5 linked regions of the Homo sapiens genome follow. The protein of the gene in region 5 purifies or fractionates together with the protein of the main gene of each other region. This does not show direct contact. Each region holds a gene or a part of one and is shown on either strand. Other genes may lie near its edges.

Evidence for each region.
Region 1: the proteins of TMEM183A (region 5) and SNX3 purify together in Homo sapiens (affinity purification with mass spectrometry; one large-scale study listed by BioGRID and IntAct). This does not show direct contact.
Region 2: the proteins of TMEM183A (region 5) and DNM1L purify together in Homo sapiens (affinity purification with mass spectrometry; one large-scale study listed by BioGRID and IntAct). This does not show direct contact.
Region 3: the proteins of TMEM183A (region 5) and PNPT1 purify together in Homo sapiens (affinity purification with mass spectrometry; one large-scale study listed by BioGRID and IntAct). This does not show direct contact.
Region 4: the proteins of TMEM183A (region 5) and NAE1 purify together in Homo sapiens (affinity purification with mass spectrometry; one large-scale study listed by BioGRID and IntAct). This does not show direct contact.

What each region holds. Positions count from the first base shown.
Region 1 is NC_000006.12:108,215,105-108,219,929, forward strand, and holds part of SNX3 (sorting nexin-3), read right to left. Parts: intron 1-4,825. UniProt on the Homo sapiens protein: Phosphoinositide-binding protein required for multivesicular body formation. Specifically binds phosphatidylinositol 3-phosphate (PtdIns(P3)).
Region 2 is NC_000012.12:32,730,725-32,735,549, reverse strand, and holds part of DNM1L (dynamin-1-like protein), read right to left. Parts: intron 4,537-4,825; coding exon 4,416-4,536; intron 4,195-4,415; coding exon 4,039-4,194; intron 3,697-4,038; coding exon 3,607-3,696; intron 1,836-3,606; coding exon 1,743-1,835; intron 1-1,742. UniProt on the Homo sapiens protein: Functions in mitochondrial and peroxisomal division.
Region 3 is NC_000002.12:55,669,257-55,674,081, reverse strand, and holds part of PNPT1 (polyribonucleotide nucleotidyltransferase 1, mitochondrial precursor), read left to right. Parts: intron 1-1,002; coding exon 1,003-1,189; intron 1,190-2,035; coding exon 2,036-2,087; intron 2,088-2,705; coding exon 2,706-2,763; intron 2,764-4,825. UniProt on the Homo sapiens protein: RNA-binding protein implicated in numerous RNA metabolic processes. Catalyzes the phosphorolysis of single-stranded polyribonucleotides processively in the 3'-to-5' direction. Mitochondrial intermembrane factor with RNA-processing exoribonulease activity.
Region 4 is NC_000016.10:66,809,886-66,814,710, reverse strand, and holds part of NAE1 (NEDD8-activating enzyme E1 regulatory subunit), read left to right. Parts: intron 1-864; coding exon 865-924; intron 925-1,013; coding exon 1,014-1,147; intron 1,148-3,938; coding exon 3,939-4,014; intron 4,015-4,297; coding exon 4,298-4,337; intron 4,338-4,825. UniProt on the Homo sapiens protein: Regulatory subunit of the dimeric UBA3-NAE1 E1 enzyme. E1 activates NEDD8 by first adenylating its C-terminal glycine residue with ATP, thereafter linking this residue to the side chain of the catalytic cysteine, yielding a NEDD8-UBA3 thioester and free AMP.
Region 5 is NC_000001.11:203,020,383-203,025,207, reverse strand, and holds the end of TMEM183A (transmembrane protein 183A), read right to left. Parts: intron 4,416-4,825; coding exon 4,260-4,415; intron 2,354-4,259; coding exon 2,168-2,353; 3' UTR 360-2,167; downstream 1-359.

The sequences.
Region 1 (4,825 bases), on a different chromosome or scaffold from region 5:
TTTGGGAGGCCGAGGCGGGCAGATCACAGGGTCAGGAGATCGAGACCATCCTGGCTAACACGGTGAAACCCTGTCTCTACTAAAAAATACAAAAAATGAGCCGGGCGTGGTGGCGGGCGCCTGTAGGCCCAACTACTCTGGAGGCTGAGGCAGGAGAATGGCATGAACCCGGGAGGCAGAGCTTGCAGTGAGTGGAGATCACGCCACTGCACTCCAGCTGGGCTACAGAGTGAGACTCCGTCTAGAAAAAAAAAAAAAAAAAGATTTCTGGTTTCTTCAACCTCTTACCATCTGCATACAGTCTTTCCTACTTGTGTTTGAGGTGATGACAAAATACCAATAACTCTAGTTGTCACTATTCTGTTTCCTAAATTAAGAAACAAGTCAACTTTCTCCCAAATGCCCTATCCTGCTGTCTTTTCCCAAAGACCTGTCATTTCTCCCTTCTCGCACTATAGGAAGATCCCAAATTTTCCCCTTCAAAGCCTAACCAAGGGTCAACTCCTGCTGATCTCTCCCTTCTGGGAATTATCTGGAGCTCAAATATTATTCTGGGCCAGGTGCAGTGGCTCACATCTGCAATCCCTGCACTTTGGGAGGCCAAGGCAGGCGGGAGGATTGCTTGAGGCCAGGAATTTGACACAAGCCTGGGCACATGTCTACAAAAATAAAAAAAACTTAGCTGGGTGTGGTGGTGTGAGCCTGTAGTCCCAGCTACTTAGGAGGCGGAAGTGGGATGATCACTTGAGTCCAGGAGTTCAGGACTGGAGTGAACTAAAATGTCGCTGCACTCCAGCCTAGGTGACAGCGAGACCCCGTCTTAAAAAAAAAATAAATTTTTAAAAATGTTATTCTGGAGCTCAAAATACTTGTTTTGATTAAATAGCACCTAGCTATTTCACAGGTTAGTTTGGTTTCTCTACCCTAGCACTACTGAGAATCAGATAAGTTTTGTACTGGGGGGCTTTCTTGTGCATTCTTTTCTTTCTTGAGATGGGGTCTTGCTCTGTCACCCAGGCTGGAGTTCCGTGGTGCGATCATGGCTCGCTGCAGCCTCCCCCAGACTCAGATGATCCTCCTGCATCAGCCTCCCAAATAGCCGGGACACTACAGGTACATAGCGTGCTACCACGCCTGGCTAATTTTTCTATTTTTTGTGGAGATGGTGTTTCACTGTGTTGGCCAGGCTGGCATTCTTTTCTTTAGCAGCATCCCTAGCCTCTGCCCACTAGACAACATAGCACCCCCAGCTGAGACAATAAAAAATGTCTCTAGACAGTGTCAAACGTCTCCTGGGGGATAAAACTGCCTTTGGTGGAAAACCATCAATCTATCATACTAATGTCTTCAAATCAAGACCCCTGTCTTAGGCTTCTTGTGGTTATTTTAAGAAAAACTGGGCATACAACAGAAGCTCAAATATCTGTTAAATGACCAACCACTTAGCTGGATCCTTACTTTAAACGCAAACAGAGAAATGTGTAAGCAAACAATCAGAACAAGGAGAAATATATATAGTAAACTGATACATATTTTTCTTTTCACCAATAATACAAATTACACATATTCAAAAAAATTAAAACTTTAAACCCTTGATATAGTTTCTACAACGAGTTGTTTATCCTCAAACAAAATTCAATAGGGTAAAAAAGGGAAAGAGCAACTCGACTTCATATAGATTAACAAAAAACAAAATAAAAACAAAAAAACCAAATGTCCAAATAAACTTTATAATCCCTTCCTAGATTTACTCTCCTCAGATGACCAATGATGAAGATATCTATGGATTTGTCTCCGTAAATTTATGCTAGCATTCTCAGATCTCACCCCCATGTTAACATCTGTTTAGTTGAGAGTTAAAATCTGCAGGGACCTTCTATAACTGAGAAACAAAGGAATGCTAACCATTACGTTCCAGTAGAATGGCTATCTGGTGGGCAGGGAAAAATATCTGTATCTACACAATTATTATTTAAAAAAAGAATTCTGGAACCACTGTGTTAAATAAATGACCACCATTAATTCAGGGTAGAATTTAGCATGAAACTTAAGAAAAGGATAGCTCAAGGATGTCAGTTAAAGAAAGAAGGAAAATGATAAAAAATGTAACAATATATATATAATTAAATATATATAAATTTCATATATAATGGGAATTTAAGAAAAGGATAGCTATGCATTATCCTCTGTAGAGATACACTCTTCCTAACATATTCAAACTAGTCATTCAAATGGATGGGGAGGTGGTAGGCAACAGGATTAATGATCTATAAAAATCATAAATGGCTCATCCAGCTAAGATTCTCTTCTACATCAAATTATTTTTGCTGAAGCAGTCTGAAAACACCTAACTGGAATTCTAACACCAGGTTGGGTGCGGTAGCTCACATATGTAATCCCAGCACTTCAGGAGGCCAAGGTGGGTGGATCACCTGAGGTCAGAAGTTCAAGACCAGCCTGGCCAACATGGTGAAACCCTGTGTCTACTAAAAATACAAAAAATTAGCCGGGCATGGTGGTGCATGCTTGTAACCCCTTTACTCAGGAGGCTGAGGAGAATTGCTTGAGCCTGGGAGGCAGAGATTGCAGTAAGCCGGGACTGCACCACGGTACTCCAGCCTGGGCGAGAGCTAGACACCGTCTCAAAAAAAAAAAAAAAAAATTCTAATACTAATTAAAAAGTCATGAATGCAAAGATATGTGCGTGCATGTGGGGTGAGAAATAGGAGAATATCTGGTGAGCACAATATATTGAAAGCTAAAGCAAACTAGAATAAAAGCTAAAAGATCTGACCATAATACATGTCAGCTAATTTCTAGCTTAGTTTAACAGATCTTAGTTAAAAGTACTAATATACCACAAAATAACTTGATTACATTGTTCTTTGCAATACTGTAATACGAGTAAAACTTTCACATGGATTTAACTCTCAATATATTTAACTGGTCTAATGTTAAATGTGAAGTATTGTGCTTCAAAGGACAACATCAAGAAAGTGAAAAACAACCCAGAGACTGGGAGATATGTGCAAATTATGTATCTGATAGGGAACTCTAAGAGTCTTATATATTCTCGACATAACTCTATAATAAAAAGATGAACCCATTGAAAAAGGCAAAAGCTCTCAATAAAGATGTCTCCAAAGAAGATACATAAATGACCAGTAAGTATATGAAAAGAAAATCAACATTAGTGGCCATTAGAGAAATAAAAATCAAAACCACAATGCAATACCCCTTCACAAACAGTAGGATAGCTATAATAAAGAAGACAGGCAATTGGTAAGGATGTGGAGAAAAGTAGAACCTCACATTGCTGGTAAGAATGTAAAATTACACAGCTGCTTTGGAAAAACGGTCTGCCAATTCCTCAAAAGGTTAAAAAGAGTTATGACCCAGCAATGTACTGGTAGGTATATACTGAAAAGAAATGAAAACACATGCAGACAGAAACCTATGCACAAATGTTCACAGCAGCACTACCAATAACAGCCAAAAAGTAGAACAAAATGTCCACCAAATAAGTGTATAAATAAGATGTGGTATAAGCATACAATAGGATATTATTTAGGAATAAAAAGAAATGAAGTAATTGATGCATGTTAGAAAAGCATGAACTGTGAAAACATGTTAAGTGAAAGAAGCCAGACACAAAAGATCACATATTGTGGGCTTCCATTTACATATGCCCAGAATGGGCAAATCCACAGAGAAAGGAGACTAGCAGGTGGTTGCCATAGGCTGAGTGAGGAAGGGTTGGGGAGAAATCAGTGGTGTCTACTAATGGGGACAGGGTTTCTTTTATTGGGTGATAAAAATGCTCTAAAATTGACTAGTGCTCTAAAATAGTGATGGTTGCACAACTCTGTGAACATATTAAAAACCAGTGAATTATACACTTTAAATGGGTGAATTGCATGGTATGTGAATTATATCTCAATAAAGCTGTTACTAAAAACAAAAGCGGTCGGGCGGGGTGGCTCACGCCTGTAATCCCAGCACTTCGGGAGGCCAAGGCGGGCGGATCACAAGGCCAGGAGATCGAGACCGTCTTGCTAACACGGTGAAACCCCGTCTCTACTAAAAATTTTTAAAAAATGAATAAATAAATTTACAAAAAAAAGCAAAATATACACTCAGCAAACGTTTATTAAACATTTCCAGTGTGCCACATGGTATGTCAAGCAAAGCCCAAAGCCTATGTATCAAGACACTTCTCAGCTAGGTGTGGTGGCTCATGCCTGTAATCCCAGCACTTTGGGAGGCCAAGGCAGGAGGATTACTTGAGGCCAGGAATTCAAGACCAGCCTGGGCAACATAGTGAAGCCTCATCCTTACAAAAAATTTTTTAAAATTAGCTGGACATGGTGGCTCATGCCTGTAGTCCCAGCTACTTGGGAGGCTGAGGCAGGAAAATCACTTGAGACCAGGAGTTGGAGGATATTATAGTATGCTATGATCACGCCACCGCATTTCAGCCTGGGCAACAGAGCAAGGCTCTGTCAATCAATCAATCAATCAATCTCCCAACCATCTGTAATTTGTAATATAGTGAGATATAAATCTTTATTTCCTAATAGACAAATATTTCAACTCCATTTGCTGAATTCCTTTCCCACTGAATGACAATGCTATTTTTGTTATGAACTAAATTCCCTATAAATACATGGGTCAAACTCTAAACTCTATTATATTCCACTAATCTATTTGCCCAACCTAAAGCAATATACACTGCATAACAGTGTTTCCCATCAGAGATGGACCACTTAAGATAATAACTGTGGTGCCTTAAGATTATAATGGAGGTGAAAAATTCCTATTGCCT
Region 2 (4,825 bases), on a different chromosome or scaffold from region 5:
AATTTTATTTTTTCATGGGCGGGTATTCAGTAATAAAAAATAACAGATAATAAAAGTATAGATATTAACAATCTTCAAAATAAAAAATTAGCATGATAAAATGTACATTTTGAACAGGGATACAAAGCAAAAGGCCACGGTATCTAGAATTCTCACCCTAGTCTGTTACTAACCAGTTATGATCTGAGCTGCTCCTGGACCCCAGCAGATGTGGAGTACCTGCTTTGCTAACTGGACAGCTTACCAACTATTTTGAAGCCCTAGTGTCCTAATCTGTTAATGACATGATCTGCCCTCAGGGTATGGTAAAGATTAAATGAAAATATCCACATAAAGTTCTCTGGCACAGTCATTAAAACCAGAAACCTATTCATTTGTAGAAAAATACTAATCTGAAATCATATCACATATGACCTTGTCAGTGTAACAGAACTACCGCAAACACAAGTTTTTCATGATGTTAGTTTCAATGTAAAAAAAACTAAATCCTTTAAGTGTCTACATGCTAATTTTTAACATAACTGTGATCTGGCCTACTTTCTGAGTGTTTTGAAGTGCCTACTCATGTATGCATTTTGGAATTTTTTCTGATAACAGGAATCACCCCCAGCTATGTAACCAAAAATTAGTTCCCTATACCTGTGTTAAGAAGGTGCTTGCTTCCTATAATAGTGCCCTGCAAAATAAGCACCAAAGGAATAACTGCTATCTGTAAGCCTCAAGCTCCCCAGTTTTTTTTTAAGATGGAGTTTCGCCCTTGTTGCCCAGGCTGGAGTGCAATGGCGCGATCTCAGCTCACTGCAACCTCCACCTCCTGGGTTCAAGTTGATTCTCCTGCCTCAGCCTCCCTAGTAGCTCAGATTACAGGCACCTGCCACCAAGCCCGGCTAATTTTTTGTATTTTTAGTAGAGACGGGGTTTCACCATGTTGGCCAGGCTGGTCTCAAACTCCTGATGTCAGGTGATCCACCTGCCTTGACCTCCCAAATTGCTGGGATTACAGGCATGAGCCACCACGTCTGGCCACCCCATCTGTTTTAACCAGAGTTGAAGTCAATAACACAGGATCCCTTCCAGCTTCTGAATTGCATGTTTACAATTTTCTCACCATGGATATGCAGAAGAGGAAATTTGGTATAGCAGGGGACTCAGGTCTTACTGAATTAGGGAGTAGCAGAAAAATGTACTATTTTTGGAGAAAAGCGGCAGAGAAAAAAAATGGCTTCTGGATAAATTGCTCTGTCCACCAGCCTTGGCTCCATCTGAGATCTTATTCAATTTGTTACATTAAAATCAAAAGGAAAGAAAAGATCCATGAAATGCAGCCACCCCAGTAGTGGTGAAAAAAGCACTCTGCTTTTCCAAATTTATGCTAAGTTGGTTAATTCTTGAGTGTTTCCTTCACAGCTTTCAAAGCCAAATGAAAAGAATTTTAAATACTTTGTTGTACACACTTCCCCTGTATAAACTATAAGTTACCAAAATAGAGCCAGTCACACCAAATCAATGAATTTTCAGATTCTTTCTGAATTTCAATTTCATAAGCAGAAAGTAATAATGCCTGCAGGTGGTTTTGAGAATTAAGAAAACAATGTAATCCCCTCAGCATATTTCCTGACATGCAGCAGGCACTAATGTGGCACATGTCTATTTTATAGTTACTCCATGCTAAATAAGTTTGATATAACTGAGTTACAACAGATTTTTCTACCTGTGAAAAAGCATTTAAGAATTATATTTACCTCTATATTATTGTTCATTAGCCCACAAGCATCAGCAAAGTCTGGATGTTTTGTGTTGATATAAGCCAGTTCAATTGCCACTAAGTTATGGACCTAGAAAAAAAGTAAGTTAGGCGATATACAAAAATACATCAACCATATTTTACTTTGAGAAATTTATATATAAAACTTATGAAACAGACAATACCGAAAAAGTACAGGAAACTTATGCCTAAATTACTTGATAATTATATTCCAACTGATAAATCTTATGCCAAACAATAATTTACTCTAGCTTTAAAATTATTTACATTTCAGCATCTAAAACTGCATTTCTAAGAGGGAAAAATAACATTAAAGTAACTACAAGTATTTTACTCTTAGGGAAAAATAGTCATCTACCTAATGCAAATCTAAATTCCAACACTTTATGCAACTTTGCTATTAAAACTTCAGATCATCCACTATTCCCTGTCACTTTTTTAGTTCATTTTCAACAATAAGAAAATAAGTTCGTAACAAGGCATAAGTTAAAGATGTTAACTTATTTGGGTAAAGGATACATCTAAGGACCTGAGGTAGTGACTGATTAGCCTTAACTATAAAGCACCTAGTTAAAATATTATATGTAGTTCAAAATCCTAAGAGGAAAATAAAAAAGAAAAGTTAAAATTAATTTATCCAGCCCTCTACAGAATTGCTAAGTCTTTTTGTTTGTTTGTTTGTTTGAGACGGAGTTTCGCTCTCATTGCCCAGGCTGGAGTGCAATGGCGCGATCTCGGCTCACCGCAGCCTCCACCTCCCAGGTTCAAGTGATTCTCCTGCCTGCCTCAGCCTCCCCAGTAGCTGGGATTACAGGCATGCACCACCACGCCCGGCTAATTTTGTATTTTTAGTAGAGAGGGGGTTTCTCCATGTTGGTCAGGCTGGTCTCAAACTTCCGACCTCAAGTGATCCACCCGCCTCGACTTCCCAAAGTGTTGGGATTACAGGTGTGAGCCACCACACCACTGAGTCTTACAGAGAGAATAAACTTGAGCCCTTTATTATGTGCTGTCCTAACAAATCTCAGGTATCAGAACAGCACTTATCAGTCCAGAACTGGGTAAAAAGGGTCTATTAAAATGAAGGTCCAATGATTCTGGGCTAAATTCAGTCTTAGACATCAGAATCTGAGGGCTATCCTTGCTAAAGAAACAACCAAGCAGCAGCACTTACATTCCAAGGATGGTTTTGTACTCTTAGTAAACCTCCACGGGGTTCACCATCCTGAGCCAAGGACCCAAATGCACTTTTAGTGATCAGAAAGAAAACAAAAAACAAAAAACCCAGCCAACAATTAGAGGCATGAGGGCAATTTTAAATGCTTATCCCATATTTCTGCCAATTTCAGCATTTTTATTTGTGTGGATAGCAGCAACCCACAGAATAGTAGCAAGCAACTACGATATTATAGTTATTAGGTCATAACAAGCAAACTGCAGAAGTGGCCAGATTACTCCGATGTACCTCAAAGTAACAGTGTGCTATAAATGCTCAGTTTACTGAGGCTAAAGATGGAACTAATTTTCTCTTAAGATCAGTGGTACTAAATAATACAGCAAAGCTATTCACACCCCTCAATCATAAATCTATTTTCAAGAAAACCCATGCCTGCAGGCTAACAATGATTAAAATATGAAGAAAAAATGCACTTTATACCAGAATTATTAAAAATTTTCCTTTAAAATGAGACTGAAACTCAACTTGTTTTTCCTCCCAATACACTGGAAAACATTATGCCTACACTCTAAAGTAACCATATAATGCTTATTAAAAAGCAGCCAAGCAAAAATTTAAACTTTTACTAATAGTAATTACAATGATCTATGCTATAGTAGCTCACCATTTCATTTGTAACAGGCAACCTTTTACGAAGAAGACAAGTCACCACTTCAACTATGGCATCATGAAGTTTAGGAAATCGTAACAATTCCTACAAATGGTAGATGAAAGAAAAACGTGTTTGTTTTTTGTTTTTTTTTTAAGTCATAGTCTCACTAAGCCATCCTCCCACCTTAGCCTCCCAAGTAGCTGAGACTACATGTAGAAGCCACCATGCCAGGCTAACAGTCATTTTCTTTTACTTAATGATCACAGAAATACTGAATTCAATTTGGAGACTACATTTAAGAATCCTATTTCAAATCACTTTCAGGTAAGGGAACTACAGATTTTACCTTGTATCCCATCTTATACATTTCCTTCCACCCAGTGAAACCACCACTTCATGTCCTTTTCTAGTTCATGTGAAACCTGTTACATTTCTCTCCGTTACCTGTGTACTGTAATTGCTACAGTGCTGAATGATCCTTTGCATTTCCTCATGAACCAGTTCCACACAGCGGAGGCTGGGCTCTTCTAGACGTTTGATTTGCCGCTTCACCAGTAACTCAAATGAAACCTCAGGCACAAATAAAGCAGGACGAGGACCCTGAGAAAATAAAACTTAGAACTCTTATTATATATGTAATTTCAGTTCTTCCCAAGGGTTAAGAAAGTCACATTTTTGGTACTTTTCATGAAAAATGCTTTTTAATTTCAAATATGAGAGCAAAATAAACTGTATAATTAAATTTAAAAAGACACAGTATATGGGTAAGAAAAACTTTAACCTCATTTTTTTTTACAGTCTAAAAAGCTAAACATACTCACAGTAGCATTTCTAATGGCAGTCAAAATGTCAATAGTGTTAAGGCCACCAAGTGGATCAACAGATTCTAAGGTTCGCCCAAAAGTCTCATGGAAAATATAACAAATTCTAGCACCACCGCATCTGAAAGGCAATGAAGTATATGGTTTCTGGCATTGCAAAAAGGGAAAGAAGATACAAGTTAGAAGTCTTTCTAGAAGCTTTAAGCTCATCTTATTTTCTGAGAAAGCCTCAGATAAACAATTTCATTCATTCCCATTACCATGTGTTCTAACTCAGCTCATTATGAACTAGTTTCTCTAATTTTTTTAAAGGGGAAAAGGAATCATTAAATTATATATATGTAAATATAATAAATGTTCTGACATAAATCAACAGTTAACTAAGAATTGCTAAGCACCTTTTCTCTGCC
Region 3 (4,825 bases), on a different chromosome or scaffold from region 5:
AAATATTTATTAGATTCCTATTGTGTTACATATTTTTACATTTTATTTAAAATATGTATTGCCAGGAGCGGTGGCTCACGCCTGTAATCCCAGCACTTTAGGAGGCTGAGGCGGGTTAATCACCTGAGGTCAGGAGTTCGAGAGCAGCCTGGGCAACATGGCAAAACCCCGTCCCTACTAAAACTACAAAAATTAGCTGGATGTAGTGGCTCACGCCTGTAATCCCCAGCACTTTGGAAGGCCAAGGCAGGCAGATCACCTAAAGTCACTTTGGCAAATAATATAAACAGTTCACAGAAAAGGACATACATATGGCCTTTTAAAAATATAAAAAGATGCCAGGCACAGTGGCTCACGTCTAATCCCAGCACTTTGGGAGGCTGAGGCAGGCAGATCACAAGGTCAGGAGATTGAGACCATCCTGGCTAACACAGTGAAACCCCATGTCTACTAAAAATACAAAAAATTAGCTGGGCATGGTGGCGGGCGCCTGTAGTCCCAGCTACTCGGGAGGCTGAGGCAGGACAATGGTGTGAACCTGGGAGGCAGAGCTGGCAGTGAGCCGAGATTGCGCCACTGCACTCCAGCGTGGTCAACAGAGTGAGACTCTGTCTCAAAAAAAAAAAAAAAGTATTAAAAACAAATGCACTTGTATACTTTAAAAGATTTAATTTTTATTTTATGTGACTTATAGCTCAATAAAACTTATTTTTAAAATATGTGCATGATTTCTTTTTTTTTTCTGTTTCATTTTTTATGGGAAATCCCTCCTTAAACTTAAGGAGAATGTAAACCTAAATACAGATATCAAGGTGTCTTTATTCATTTACCGCTGCTTACATTTTGGAAGTATGTTGATTCTGAGGAAAGAAATCAAGGTGGATCTATCACTAAGAAGTAAAATTGATCCATAATATTTATGTCATGTCATGGTATTTGAAAATGTTATATTACTAAGAGCTTCGATGGCAGTCATTTTTTTTTTCTTTTTCCTTTAAATAGTCATGTTGGAAGCCTCTGCAGAGAACATTTTACAGCAGGACTTTTGCCATGCTATCAAAGTGGGAGTGAAATATACCCAACAAATAATTCAGGGCATTCAGCAGTTGGTAAAAGAAACTGGTGTTACCAAGAGGACACCTCAGAAGTTATTTACCCCTTCGCCAGAGATTGTGAAATATACTCATAAGTAAGAACATCTGTGCAAATGAAAATATGAAATTGTCATCAGATTTAATTTCCTCGTGGGAGAGAAACTTCCCATGGAAGCACTGCCCATGCATTACTTCATAAATAGCACTTTTCTGTTTTAAGAGTCATTCCCATAAATATCTGCTTACTCCCTTAAAAAGGATAAGCCCACATCACTCTTGTAAGACCTAACTTTGAATCTCAAATGAAAGAGTGTGTTTATTGGTCAAGATTCAGGTAAGCACCACATCTCTCCACGTCTAGGAAAAAGAATAAAACGTTAAGATATTTGAATATCTAAGGAAACTGTTGGAATTCTCAAAAAGAAATCAGAGGTAATCACTGTTACATGCCCAGTGCTTAGAACGTTAGGCAGACACTCAGTAAATGTAAATGAATCACTGGAAAATTATTTTATTTGAAAAAATTGAAAAGGTTAATACTTTCCCTTAATGTCAGTTGCACAGCCATGAGTTGGAAATTAAATTAACTCTTTCTAGCAAAAGAGTTTCATGTGATAATGGAGCCAAAATGGGTAGAATGAAGAAAGGAAGAGGTTAAAAAGAATATATGAAAGGTGAAATTAATTGAACAATTAAGAAGAAAAGAACAGGATACTACATGTGGTTTCCCCTGGGAGGGTGGGAGAAAGAAATTTGTGTTCTATACCATAAATAGTAAACAGATTAGCAATGATAAATAGCAATATAAATTTTCAATTCTTTCTGAAGTATTTATTAAAGTTTTAGCTGATTATTATTAAATATTTCAGTTTTGTTTATAATAGAAACTGCCTCTTGTTTCCAGATATTATTATGCTAACATTTATTTTCTGCTTAAATAGACTTGCTATGGAGAGACTCTATGCAGTTTTTACAGATTACGAGCATGACAAAGTAGGTATACCTGAGTTTTGTCTTCCATAATTGCCCTAGGAATACATTTTTGTCATAACTCATGTAATTTTCTTTATGAATGCTAGTCCTATTTTTATTAAAAATCTCTAAATGAAAAACTAACAAAAGCCTAATTGTTTCTCCATTCTTTTGTTTTGTTTTGTTTTTGAGACAGAGTCTCTCTCTGTCGCCCAGGCTGGTGTGCAGTGGCATGATCTCAGCTCACTGCAACTTTCGCCTTCCAGCGATTCTCATGCCTCAGCCTCCCAAGTAGCTGGGATTACAGGTGCACGCCACCACACTCAGCTATCTTTTGTATTTTTAGTAGAGACGGCCATGTTGGCCAGGCTGGTCTCAAACTCCTGGCCTCAAGTGATCTGCCCACCTTGGCCACCCAAAGTTCTTTTCTTTTTAATATAAGTTTTAGGGGAGTGTACAAATGTATTTGAATGAATTAACATGTAGTATTTGTCATAAATCAAGAACCAATTCCAATATTTTAAAGAATATTAAAGAAATCAGAGTAATTCACAATGTGTTCATTGTATAATAATTAGAAAACAGAAATATTAAATGTTGTCATGTATATGTAATAACTGAACCTCAACTTTCTTTTAGGTTTCCAGAGATGAAGCTGTTAACAAAATAAGATTAGATACGGAGGAACAACTAAAAGGTAAATTTTATTTTATTTTATTTTATTTTTTTGCTGAGGGCAGCTTTAATAAGGCATGGCCTGACTCTTGCTTCTTGGGATTAAAGGTCAAAGAGGAAAGGCATCACATCTGTAGGAAAAGAAGAATTCAAAGGACTTTCAACTTTACAGCTGCTGTTCCCTAGACCTAGAATGCTCTCTCATAGCAGGTGGTCTTCTTCTAACCCAAGGTTCAAATGCCACCTCTTCTCCAAAGCTTCCCCGAACTGTTTCGGGGAAAGAGAAAGTCCCCTTTGCACAGAACCGCTATTACTATGTATTTTTTAATTTTAAAAGCATTAAAAGAAATAATAGACTTTTTTTTTTTTTAACTTTAGTTGAAGATCTCAAATAAATGTTACTCTCATTGCTTCTCAGCTTTATTTTCAATAAACTTGTAATAATGATAGCTCACAAGGTTACTGCTAAATTAACTTCTATGAATGTAGCTAGCACTACATTTGATGCAGAGTAGGTACCTAGTAAATGTTGAATGTGAATGTTCCTGATCTTTTCTGAATCAAACTCCTACCATACAAGAAATGTAACCTGGTATCTTATCATTTGAAAACCCAAATATATTCTTTAAAATTCTTGAGTTCTTGATCTGTGAAATTGCAGTGTTAATAATACCTGGTTTATGGGGATTAAATGAGTGAATCATTTACATCTGTGCCTGCCACACCGTAAGTGTTCAATAAATGTTAACTGATGCTATTCTTAATACCTAGTGGAATCATAAGATACAGAACTTAGGTAATTTAGCTCTCCAGAAATTATTAAGCAAAGGATCTTACTGTATAATATCAACCTCTGGCCAGGCGCGGTGGCTCACGCCTGTAATCCCAGCACTTTGGGCGGCCGAGGCAGACAGATCACGAGGTCAAGAGATCGAGACCATCCTGGCTAATACGGTGAAACCCTGTCTCTACTAAAAATACAAAAAGTTAGCCGGGCGTGGTGGCGGGCACCTGTGGTCCCAGCTACCCAGGAGGCTGAGGCAGGAGAATGGCGTGAACCCAGGAGGTGGAGCTTGCAGCGAGTCGAGATCGCGCCACTGCACTCCAGCTTGGGCAACGGAGCGAGACTCTGTCTCAAAAAAATAAATAAATAAATAAAAATAATAGTAATAATACCAACCTCACACAAACTGAATATAAATGAAGTATGACATAGTTTTTGTTAATTTTTCTAATAGACAAATATACTCTCACATGAATATTTATTTTAAGATAAAAAACTGGCCAGGCGTGGTGGCTCATGCCTGTAATCCCAGCACTTTGGGAAGCCAAAGTGGGTGGATCACTTGAGATCAGGAGTTCAAGACCAGCCTGGCCAATATGGTGAAACCCCATCTCTACCAAAAATACAAAAATTAGGCGGGCATGGTGGCAGGCTCCTGTAATCCCAGCTACTTGGGAGGCTGAGGCATGAGAATCACTTGAACCTGTTAGGCAGAGGTTGTAGTGAGCTGAGACCGCCACTGCACTCCAGCCTGGGCAATAGAGCAAGACTCCATCTCAAAAAAAAAAAAAAAAGTGCTGTTAGCATTGATATTAAGGCCATTAATTGTAACTGTCATTGAATATGTTTAGTCCTTTCTCACTACATTTCATCCTATTTGGTAAGAAAGAAATTTTATAGCGAATATTGTCTTATTTTAAAAGAATAGTGACTTTTTGTTTGTATTATACATAGTAGAATATCTTCACGACCCTCTGGGTTGATAGGATATTTTAAACATTTTGGTACTGATTGTTTTCCTTTCCAAGTACAACTCAGTTAAGCAGAAAAGATATTAAAGTCTAATATTAAAAATTATTCTTTTCTGAAGAAGATACAATCTAATATATCTTTCTGTGACCATTTCTTGTGTTTTGGTTACTTTGAAGTTATGTTTAATAAACCATACACATGAGAGAATAGTACTTAAAACTTGGCATAAATTAATTGATAGGGTAGAATAGCTTAACATCTAAACCCTAAGCTAAAAATAAAATAAAATAAAACCATAAGCCTTTGAGGCTGACAGATCTTTATTCAG
Region 4 (4,825 bases), on a different chromosome or scaffold from region 5:
GTGGAAGCAGAGAGAGCAGTTAGGAGGTCCCACTGAGACATTTCTTTTTTCCACCCATCAGTAGAATCCAAGCCTATGATTTGTGTGTGTGTGTGTGTGTATTTTTTTTTTTTTTTTTGAGACAGGGTCTCACATTGGTGCCCAGGGTAGAATGCAGTGACACAATCACTGCTCACTGCAGCCTTGACCTCCTGGGCTCAAGTGATCCCCCCACCTCAGCCTCCCAAGTAGCTGGGACCACAGGCACGTGCCACCACGCGCAGCTAATTTACTTTTATGTTTTCTATAGACGGGGTCTTCCTGTTTTGTTCAGGTTGGTCTCAAACTCCTGGGCTCAAATGACCCTCTCACCTTGGCCTCCTGAATGCTGGGATTATAGATATGAGCCATTGTGCTCAGCTTTATACTCTTGATTAACGTATGAAGATCTTGCTAGCAATAAAATTACTTTATGGTTTTAGTTTTTTTCAGAGTGGTTGTCTCAACGGTCACTAATTAGGGTGCAAGGGTTTCAGATTTTTGACAAGATGGAAAATCATGATATACTGCGAGTCTATAATCTGTTTTGTCTTCAGATGTAACTATATAAAATAATTTACTGGGGCCCCTTCTTTACCCCATTTATGGTATAAGAGAATAGGTATTAAATGGTAGCAACAGTGGGCCGGAGAGGTCTTTCTTCCATTCTTTCCCCATCAAATCTTCATATGGTACTGATTCTAAATAAAATTATAAACCAATCAGAAGTTTGTATTTGATTACAATTTGAGAATTCAAAGAACATATCTGAAGAAATAGCACTGAAAATAAAGATGGGCGAATTCTTAATACTGTGTAAGTAAATGTTTCATGTTCCTTTGTTAGATCCCAAGCAGTATTGAAGATATATTTAATGATGATCGCTGCATAAATATCACCAAACAGGTAACAACAACAAAAGTAAAAACATTGCTGCTAAAACTTTGGGTCAAAGTAAAACGCCACTTAATGTTAATTTTTTCTTATTCTTTTAGACTCCATCATTTTGGATTTTAGCTCGTGCCTTAAAGGAATTTGTGGCCAAAGAGGGTCAAGGAAATTTACCTGTTCGAGGCACAATTCCTGATATGATTGCAGATTCAGGCAAATATATAAAACTGCAAAACGTGTATGTCACTGTTTTCAAACTATGTAATAGAAAAAGTCTGATTATATTAGAGATAAACATTTTATCATCCTGTCAGAAATCAAATGAAAGTTTATTACAACCTCATTGCTTATAAATAAACTAGGCCAGCTGCAGTGGCTCATGCCTGTAATCCCAACACTTTGGGAGGCCAAGGTGGGAGAATTGCTTGAGTCCAGGAGTTTGAGACCATCGTGGGCAACATAGTGAGACTTCCATCTCTACAAATTGAAAAATTAGGTGGGCATGGTAGTGTTCGCCTTTAATCTCAACTACTCAGGAGGCTGAGGCAGAAGGATCTCTTGAGCTCAGGAGTTTGAGGCTGCAGTGAGCCATGATCATGCCACTTCACTTCAGCCTGGGTGACAGAGCAAGACCCTGTTTCAAATAAATAAGTAAAAATAAGCTGAAGAACTTAGACCAGGCTGGGCGCAGTGGCTCACACCTGTAATCCCAGCGCTTTGGGAGGCCGAGGCAGGCGGATCACGAGGTCAGGAGATTGAGACCATCCTGACTAACACGGTGAAACCCTGTCTCTACTAAAAATACAAAAAAATTAGCCGGGCGTGGTGGCAGGCGCCTGTAGTCCCAGCTACCCGGGAGGCTGAGGCAGGAGAATAGCGTGAACCCGGGAGGCGGAGCTTGCAGTGAGCGGAGATCGCACCACTGCACTCCAGCCTGGGCGACAGAGTGAGACTCTGTCTCAAAAAAAAAAAAAAAGAACTTAGGCCGGGCGTGGTGGCTCACGCCTGTAATCCCACCACTTCGGGAGGCCGAGACGGGTGGATCACAAGGTCAGAAGATCAAGACCATCCTGGCCAACATGGTGAAACCCTGTCTCTACTAAAAAAATACAAAAAATTAGCCAGGTGTGGTGGTGCGCACCTGTAGTCCCAGCTATTCGGGAGGCTGAGGCAGGGGAATCGCTTGAACCCAGGAGACGGAGGTTGCAGTGAGCCAAGATCGTGCCACTGCACTCCAGCCTGGAGACAGAGCAAGAGTCCGTCTCAAAAAAAAAAAAAAAAAAAAAAAGAACTTAGGGGGCAATTCTTGTTAAGCTCAAAGCAAAATTGAATGGGAAATACAGAATTACCACATACGCCTAGGAGGCAGAGTTTTTTTTCATACTTCATGATAAACTTAATATTTGATCCCTTAACTCTGTGCTATGAACTATATGTATTAAGTAATTTAACACACACACAAGGTTCACAACGACCTTATGAGAGAGAGAGAGACTGTTACCGGCCCCATTTTACACATGAAGAAACTAAGGTATTGAAAAGGTTACTTATACAAGGTCAGATAGCTGGTAAATGGCAGAACCAAGATTTGAACCCCAGGAAACCCAGTACCAGAGCCTGTATGCTTAGCTATGGCCCTATACTACCTTGTATTTGTAACTTAAAACCATGAAGGTTTGATGAATTTTTTATCTTAATGTTTCATAAGTTATAGTCTATGACTATAGCTAGACATCTTGCTATCCAGGTATCACTAGCCTGAACCCAGATAGACTATCACAGGGATGGGTCTCAATGAATATGACCCTCGTATAGTTAGGGCATGGTGCAAAGAATCCAGGTCTGCTGGCTCGGTTTCTTTGGGGTCCAAGTAATGTCACACAGAGATGATCTCTCTTCCCCAGACAGATTTCACTCTTTATCATGTCACCATTGAACGAATCTTGGTTTGTTGTCCTAGCCTAAGAGTTCAACTACTTAAAACTTGGGGAAGGTCAATTGAGGATAGAAAGAAGTATGACCTTACATGGGAGGTAGTCAGCCTGAACACTGATGATTTTTAGAGGGTGAAAGGTAAATAGACGTAAAGAAAACTTTTATGGCCGGATGCAGTGGCTCACACCTGTATTCCCAGCACTTTGGGAGGCCAAAGCGGGTGGTGAAATGTGCCACAAGGGATGTTCACAGTTGTTTTAAATGGTTGAAATTTTACGTTTTCCATGGTCTGTCTCAGTGGTATAGATACAGATAATAATTGGGTAAGGGTTTTTTTTTCCTCTCATAATAAATACAGAGTATTTTAAAACAATCAGAGGTAGAGCATGTTTATCTATGGCAATGCTAAAAAGGTATGAAGGTCAGTTAATTGAAAATTGTCATTAATACAGTATTTTCAGTTTCTAAATCACTTGAACCCAGGAGTTCAAGACCAGCCTGGGCAACATGGTGAAACTCCGTCTCTACAAAAAAGACAAAAATTAGTCGGGCATGGTAGCGTGTGCCTGAATTCCCAGCTACTTGGGAAGCTGAGGTGGGAGGATCAGTTGAGCGTGGGAAGTTGAGGCTGCAGTGAGCCAGGACTGCGCCACTGTACTCCAGCCTGGGTGGCAGAGCGAGATCCTGTCTCAAAAAACAAAGAAGTTTTACATTGGAGATGAACAGTTTTAATGTATTTAACTTTCCTTGGACTTGACTTCCAGGAGATAAGTCATGTTCTTCAGTAATGTATTTTTTCAGGTCCTCTGTCACAGAAGCCGAAATCATAGATCCCTCTAGGGGAGCAGTTTTTAAGTTGGGTGCTGTTAGAGGGACCCTGGGTTTTAGTGGGCACTGAGAGTCCGTCACTAACACTGGAAAGATTCCCAGCTACTCATGGTGCTGTTGATAGCATTTCCCTGGCATTTTCACATTTCATACATTGTCAGACCTGTGTTTTTTCATGAAAAGGAAAGAAAATTTTTGTTCATGGTAACAATTTAAATTTTGCTAATTTAAAAATTTGTTAGTAATTGCTTTTTATTCTTTTTTAGTTACCGTGAAAAAGCAAAGAAAGATGCTGCCGCTGTGGGTAATCATGTTGCCAAATTGCTGCAGTCCATTGGCCAGGTAAGCTACTGGGCACACTGTGCCCATACAGGCCTCAGCACGTAACTCCAGCCAGAAAGGGTTTAGAGACAGAGGGTGTGGCACTGCCTCTGTGCTTCTTTAGAGGGAGCTGTCATTTCCCTGCCTAATGGGATAGCTTGTGATAAGGAAACAAGATATTTTTAAAGTGCTCTCCCAGCTCTTGGAGAAAGCCTTCCCATCTCACAGTGATTGGCTTTGTGCCGCACCCTTTGTTAATCTTCTCTTTTAAACTGGAACAGAATCTGTATTTATCTCTTTACAGGCACCAGAGTCCATTTCAGAGAAAGAATTAAAATTACTCTGTAAGTCCCCTTGAATTAATTTCCTTATTTTGCTTGATAGAAATGTGCCACAGGGAATGTTCCCAGGTATTTTGAATGGTTGAAATTTTAAGTTTTCCATGGCCTCAGTGATATAGATATAGATAATTATTGGGTAAGGTTTTTTTTTTCCTCTCATAATACAATACATGGCGAGTATTTTAAGACTGAATCAGAGGTAGAACATGTTTATCTGTGGCAATGCTAAAAAGGCTTGACGGTCAGTTAATTGAAAATTGCCATTAATACAGGATTTTCAGTTTTTAAATTTTAAGTAATTTAGGAAGTTTTTTTGTCTGAAGACTTTGGGTGTGAAGTCTTGAGTCACATGTACATTGACAATATTGGTTTAAATACTCATTTTGATCTGTGTTAAATGACTGTAATGGAGTTAAGAATTTTGCCATCTAGTTTCGGAGTGGTTAGGTTCGTAGGAGTCTTCTCAGTAACTCCTCAGTAGGCCAAAAGCA
Region 5 (4,825 bases):
GGGTCTGTGTCCATAACTCTCACAGCGTTCAAGGATCAATTTATGTTGCTTGACAGAGCAAAATCACAGTATATAACCTGTAGTCCAGAAAGTTCTAATTCTTCTTCGGGTGGTCTGGGGTCCTCACCAAAAGGAAATCCCTGAGACACTTCACATCCTGTCACTAATAAAGCATGTATCATGCTAGAAACGGCAACTCAGCCAATGCAGAGGAAGGCTGAAGCCAAGATAACGACTGGTAACACATTTTACCAAATGTTTGTCAATATTATGCTGAGAGAGAGCTGAGGCAGTATCTAGTACTGTATCTGTCACCATACCATGGAATTTGACACAAAAAACTCAGAGCTGAGTCAGAATACAATTATTAAGCCAAATTTATTTCACCCCCTTTTTAAAGGTACTCCTAAGCGGGGAACAATGCACCAAGACACTCCTGCTCCATGGCATCTTTAGTTCAGGCAACCTGGCAGGGACTGTGCTTCTCCCCTCCTGCCTCAAAGAGGCAACTTTTAATTGTAGAGATCTGCAAAGTGCTCATTGTCCTTAGGTTGTCTGTTATCACTCAAATGCCCAAATTCTGTTTTTGACTGACCCAGGCTCACTCTGTGTGAACAGTTTTAATACCACCCTCAACGTGGGATAAGGTTAGCTGTTAGCAGCAAAATTAAGCAGATGCTTTCTAGGAATATTCCTAGGGAAGATGGTAAAAAAAAAAAAACAAAAATGTGAATTTAGCAGTTTGCCTCACAAGATTTTCACTTTTAAAGAATACTGTCTTAATGCCCACCTCCTGGCAATATCCAGGTAATATCCAGCTCACTGGTTAATTTTGGATGGTGGAGGGTGGGAGGAGAGACAAGCAGCAAGGTTTTCTCCTTAGCAAAACAGAAAAACGTGATTCTCTTCTCAGAGTACACCTGAACAATAGGAGTCATCTAAACAACAGGAGGACATAAGCATTTCTGCATGGACGGAAGACCAGGCTTCTGTAGGCACACAGGATGACAGCAGAAGCAGCACAGTACAGGGCAGAGCAAAGTCGCTAAGTGCTTATGGTTCAAGAGGCTGGTTTCAACATGCAATGCATTTTGTTAATGACGTTTTAGCCTAATAAATGCCCTTCTAACAGTTCAAGGAAAGGGTCACTATCCTTCCTGAAATAACTTTCTTGGTTTTACATTTTATTCAGAAATACATATTTAAAAGATCATTTCATCAATCTTCTAAACTTTTTTGGCTGATTAGAATAACATATACCACAATCAATTTTTTACTTACCCTTTTACTTTTTTTTATCTATGTACACTCTGCCTACTCCTTTTTACCACCATCTACCACAAGAAAAATGAGACTCATCTTTTAAACTTATGGTACAACAAAAAGACCTGGGTCAGAATCTTGGCTCTGCATTTACTGGTGTTATAGGTACAGTCACTAATTCCGTTTTCTCAACTATAAAATGGGAATAATATCACCTACTTTGCAAGACTGTGAGAAGTAGAGATACTATGTAAAGTTCCTAGTATAGTACCAAGGGTATAAAGTCATCATCACCATTATCAGCCTCATGCAAAAAAATACCTAAAATCCAAAACTGCCAAAAGAAAATGTATGCAATAAATATCACAAATTATTTTTTAAAAAAGATACACAAGTCAATATGGTAAGATTCTGAAAACCCTGTCACCTGCTTTATTTCTGGAGAAGGGTAAAGGGAGAAGGGAAAATATTCACTTGAATTTGAGGGGCAGCTAAACTGGAAGCAACAATTTCAGGCCTCTAAGGTTCCTCTGATCCATAAGGGAATGCTGAAACTTCCTTGTTTGGAGATTCAAAGAGTTTAATTTTTCCCTACAGCAAGATCAACAATTTTCACTGGGATAAAAGAATAAAGAACAAACTCAATAGCACCAAATGGGGTTTTAACACAGAAAACAGGGCCACTCCTTTTAAATGCAAATTTTTACATTAAAATATGTTTATAAATCATAGTAGTTGTTTTCCCTCTTGATTCAACATTTCTCCCTCCCCTAACAGGAGCCCTAGAACCTGAAGAGCATGTACATTACTAACGAGATATACAATCCAGCCACCCTGTCCAAACTGGAATCTGATTACTAATGGACTACACTCGAGGCTGCCCCCAAGGGATGGGAAGCAGTAACTACGCTCTCAGGGAGAATGGGTACTGAGGATGCCACCAGTCAAAGAGCCGAACGCTGTGCACTGGGTCCAGGATGACTTGCACACCCTGTTCACTGCGCAGTTTCCGACCACCATGGACAGGGGAATCTTGGAACACCAGTCTCACTCGATGATGCCGCATGTCCGTGCTCACATTGATAGTAAACTGAAATGGAAAAGCAAATTCAGTATCCAACTTACACAACCTTGGTTTCCAAGAGCTCACTCTGAAATGAAATAGTCCAGACTAATTTATACTGGCTAGGCCACAAGATTAATCTCTAAATTATAAAACAAACACCTTTTTTTTTTTTTTTTGAGAAAGGACCTCGTTCTGTTGCCCAGGCTGTAGTGCAGTGATGTGATCTCGGCTCACTGCAACCTCCGCCTCCTGGGATCAAACGATTCTTGTGCCTCAGCCTCCCAAGTAGCTAGGAATATAGGCGTGCACCACCATGACCGGCTAATTTTTGTATTTTTAGTAGAGACAGGGTTTTGCCATGTTGGCCAGGCTGGTCTCAAACTCCTGACCTCAAGTGATCTGCCCACCTCGGCCTCCCAAAGTGCTGGGATTACAGGCATGAGCCACCACGCCCAGCCAACCTTTAAAGATATAAAAAATTAAGGAGAATTTTATAAGGCCTTCTCAGCTTCACGTTTAAACTATGCTAAAGAAAGCCTCCCTAATGAGCACTTTGGGAGGCTAAGGCAGGCAGATTGTCTGAGGTTAGGAGTTTGAGACCAGCCTGAGCAAACCCCATTTCTACCAAAAATACAAAAATTAGCTGGGTGTGGTGGCAGGCACCTGTAATCCCAGATAGCTACTTGGGAAGCGGAGGCAGGAGAATCACTTGAAACCAGGAGACAGAGGTTGCAGGGAGCCGAGACTGCGCACCACGGCACTCCAGCATGGACTACAGAGCGAGACTCCATCTCAAAAAAAACAAAACAAAACTGTATATATGACACAATCTCAATTATACAAAATTATTTGAGAGAGAGAGAGTACATACATATTAACAGACACATTAAGAGAACAGTTCCCAAAAGATTAATTGCAGTTACAGGATAGTGGAAGTCTAAGTCACCTTTACTTTGTCAGTATATTTATGTATTATTTGAAGTCATTTACCATTTTAAAAAAGCTACTTTCATTGTGGAAGGGGAACCTCATGTATTTCTGAATGTAAGCCTAAGATACAGAGAAGACAAATTACATGAACTCTCCAGTTGCCAAGCCAATGAAAAATTTTTAAAACCTGGAAAAATATGCCAGAGGCACATACGTTGTTTACTAATTACTGGCCAAGCCTTGAACAGTGATAATATCACACAAAGGACAGAGCTGAGCTGGTCACCCTGTATTTTAATATCCCATTTGTAACCCCATATGCATGCCTCAAGGTCCTGACATACAGTGCCCATGTATATATCTCATCATTCTTCCTAATAGGATAATGTTTCTCAATCATTAATCATCACTACACATGAAAATGCAAAAACATTCCCTTTCCTACAAAGAAGGAAACAAGGTAAAATACTCTCAGATATAATTAATGTCTCCACAAATCTGTCTGTTGCTAATATACAGGACTGAGTTCAAACTTTTTTTTTGAAAAAAGATACCTTCCTTCATGGTTAAATTTACAAATATCCTTCAAACCTCAGATATAGCAAAAATCTATAAAAAAGCTGAATGCAGTGGCTCACACTTATAATCTCAGCACTTGAGAGGCCGACGTGGAAGAACTGCTTGAGGCTAGGAGTCTGAGACAAGCCTCAGCAACGCTGTGAGACACCCATTGCAACAAAAAATAAAAATTAGCTAGGGGTGGTGGTGCACACCTGTAGTCCTAACTACTTGGGAGGCTGAAGCAAGAGGATAGCTTAAGCCCAGGAGTTTTGAGGTTGCAATGAGTGATGATTCCATCACTGCACTTCAGCCTGAGTGACAGAGTGAGACCACGTCTCTTAAAAAAAAAAAAAAAAAAAAGAGCTGCGGTTCACCTCCTTTCAGAATGAAAAAAAAAAAAAAAAAGGAGCTGAGAATGACATCCTGAGTCCCCACTTACCAGAGTAAATATCATTCCCATGACAATCGGAATAAAGATGAAATTGAGGGTGGTGACCTGCAGTAGGCAGCAGTCCTGGTCTGGATTGGTATGAACATCTTCGTACTGAACGGGAGGCTGCAATCCTCCTGTACACTTGCTCTTTAACCTAGGGGACTGAAGAGAACTGAGAATTAATCCAATGGCTTAGAAGAAACATTATATGGCTCTAAGAGTCCACCAAAGAAAATCCTATGGCTCAACTAAAGCTAGTGAGATACACTTTTATCTTCTCTCTTTATACATGTTTCTATACAGAGATCAAAGAAAACCTACCCTTTGAAAGAAGGGTAAATACATTTGGATGAGCAAATGTGGCAATGGGTTTATGCTTCGTTTAGATGGTATTCCTTGCCATCTGACAAGAAATGGAAACTTACAGCCTCTACCAGAGGTTCTACAATGTTTGAAAGACTGCAAATTCCTTGTAACTTGTCAGACTCCAAAGAACATCTGCTGCACAAAAGGGATGGAAGCAGAAGTGGCCACCTAATTCCAGACACCATAAAATAAAGGAATCACAAGTC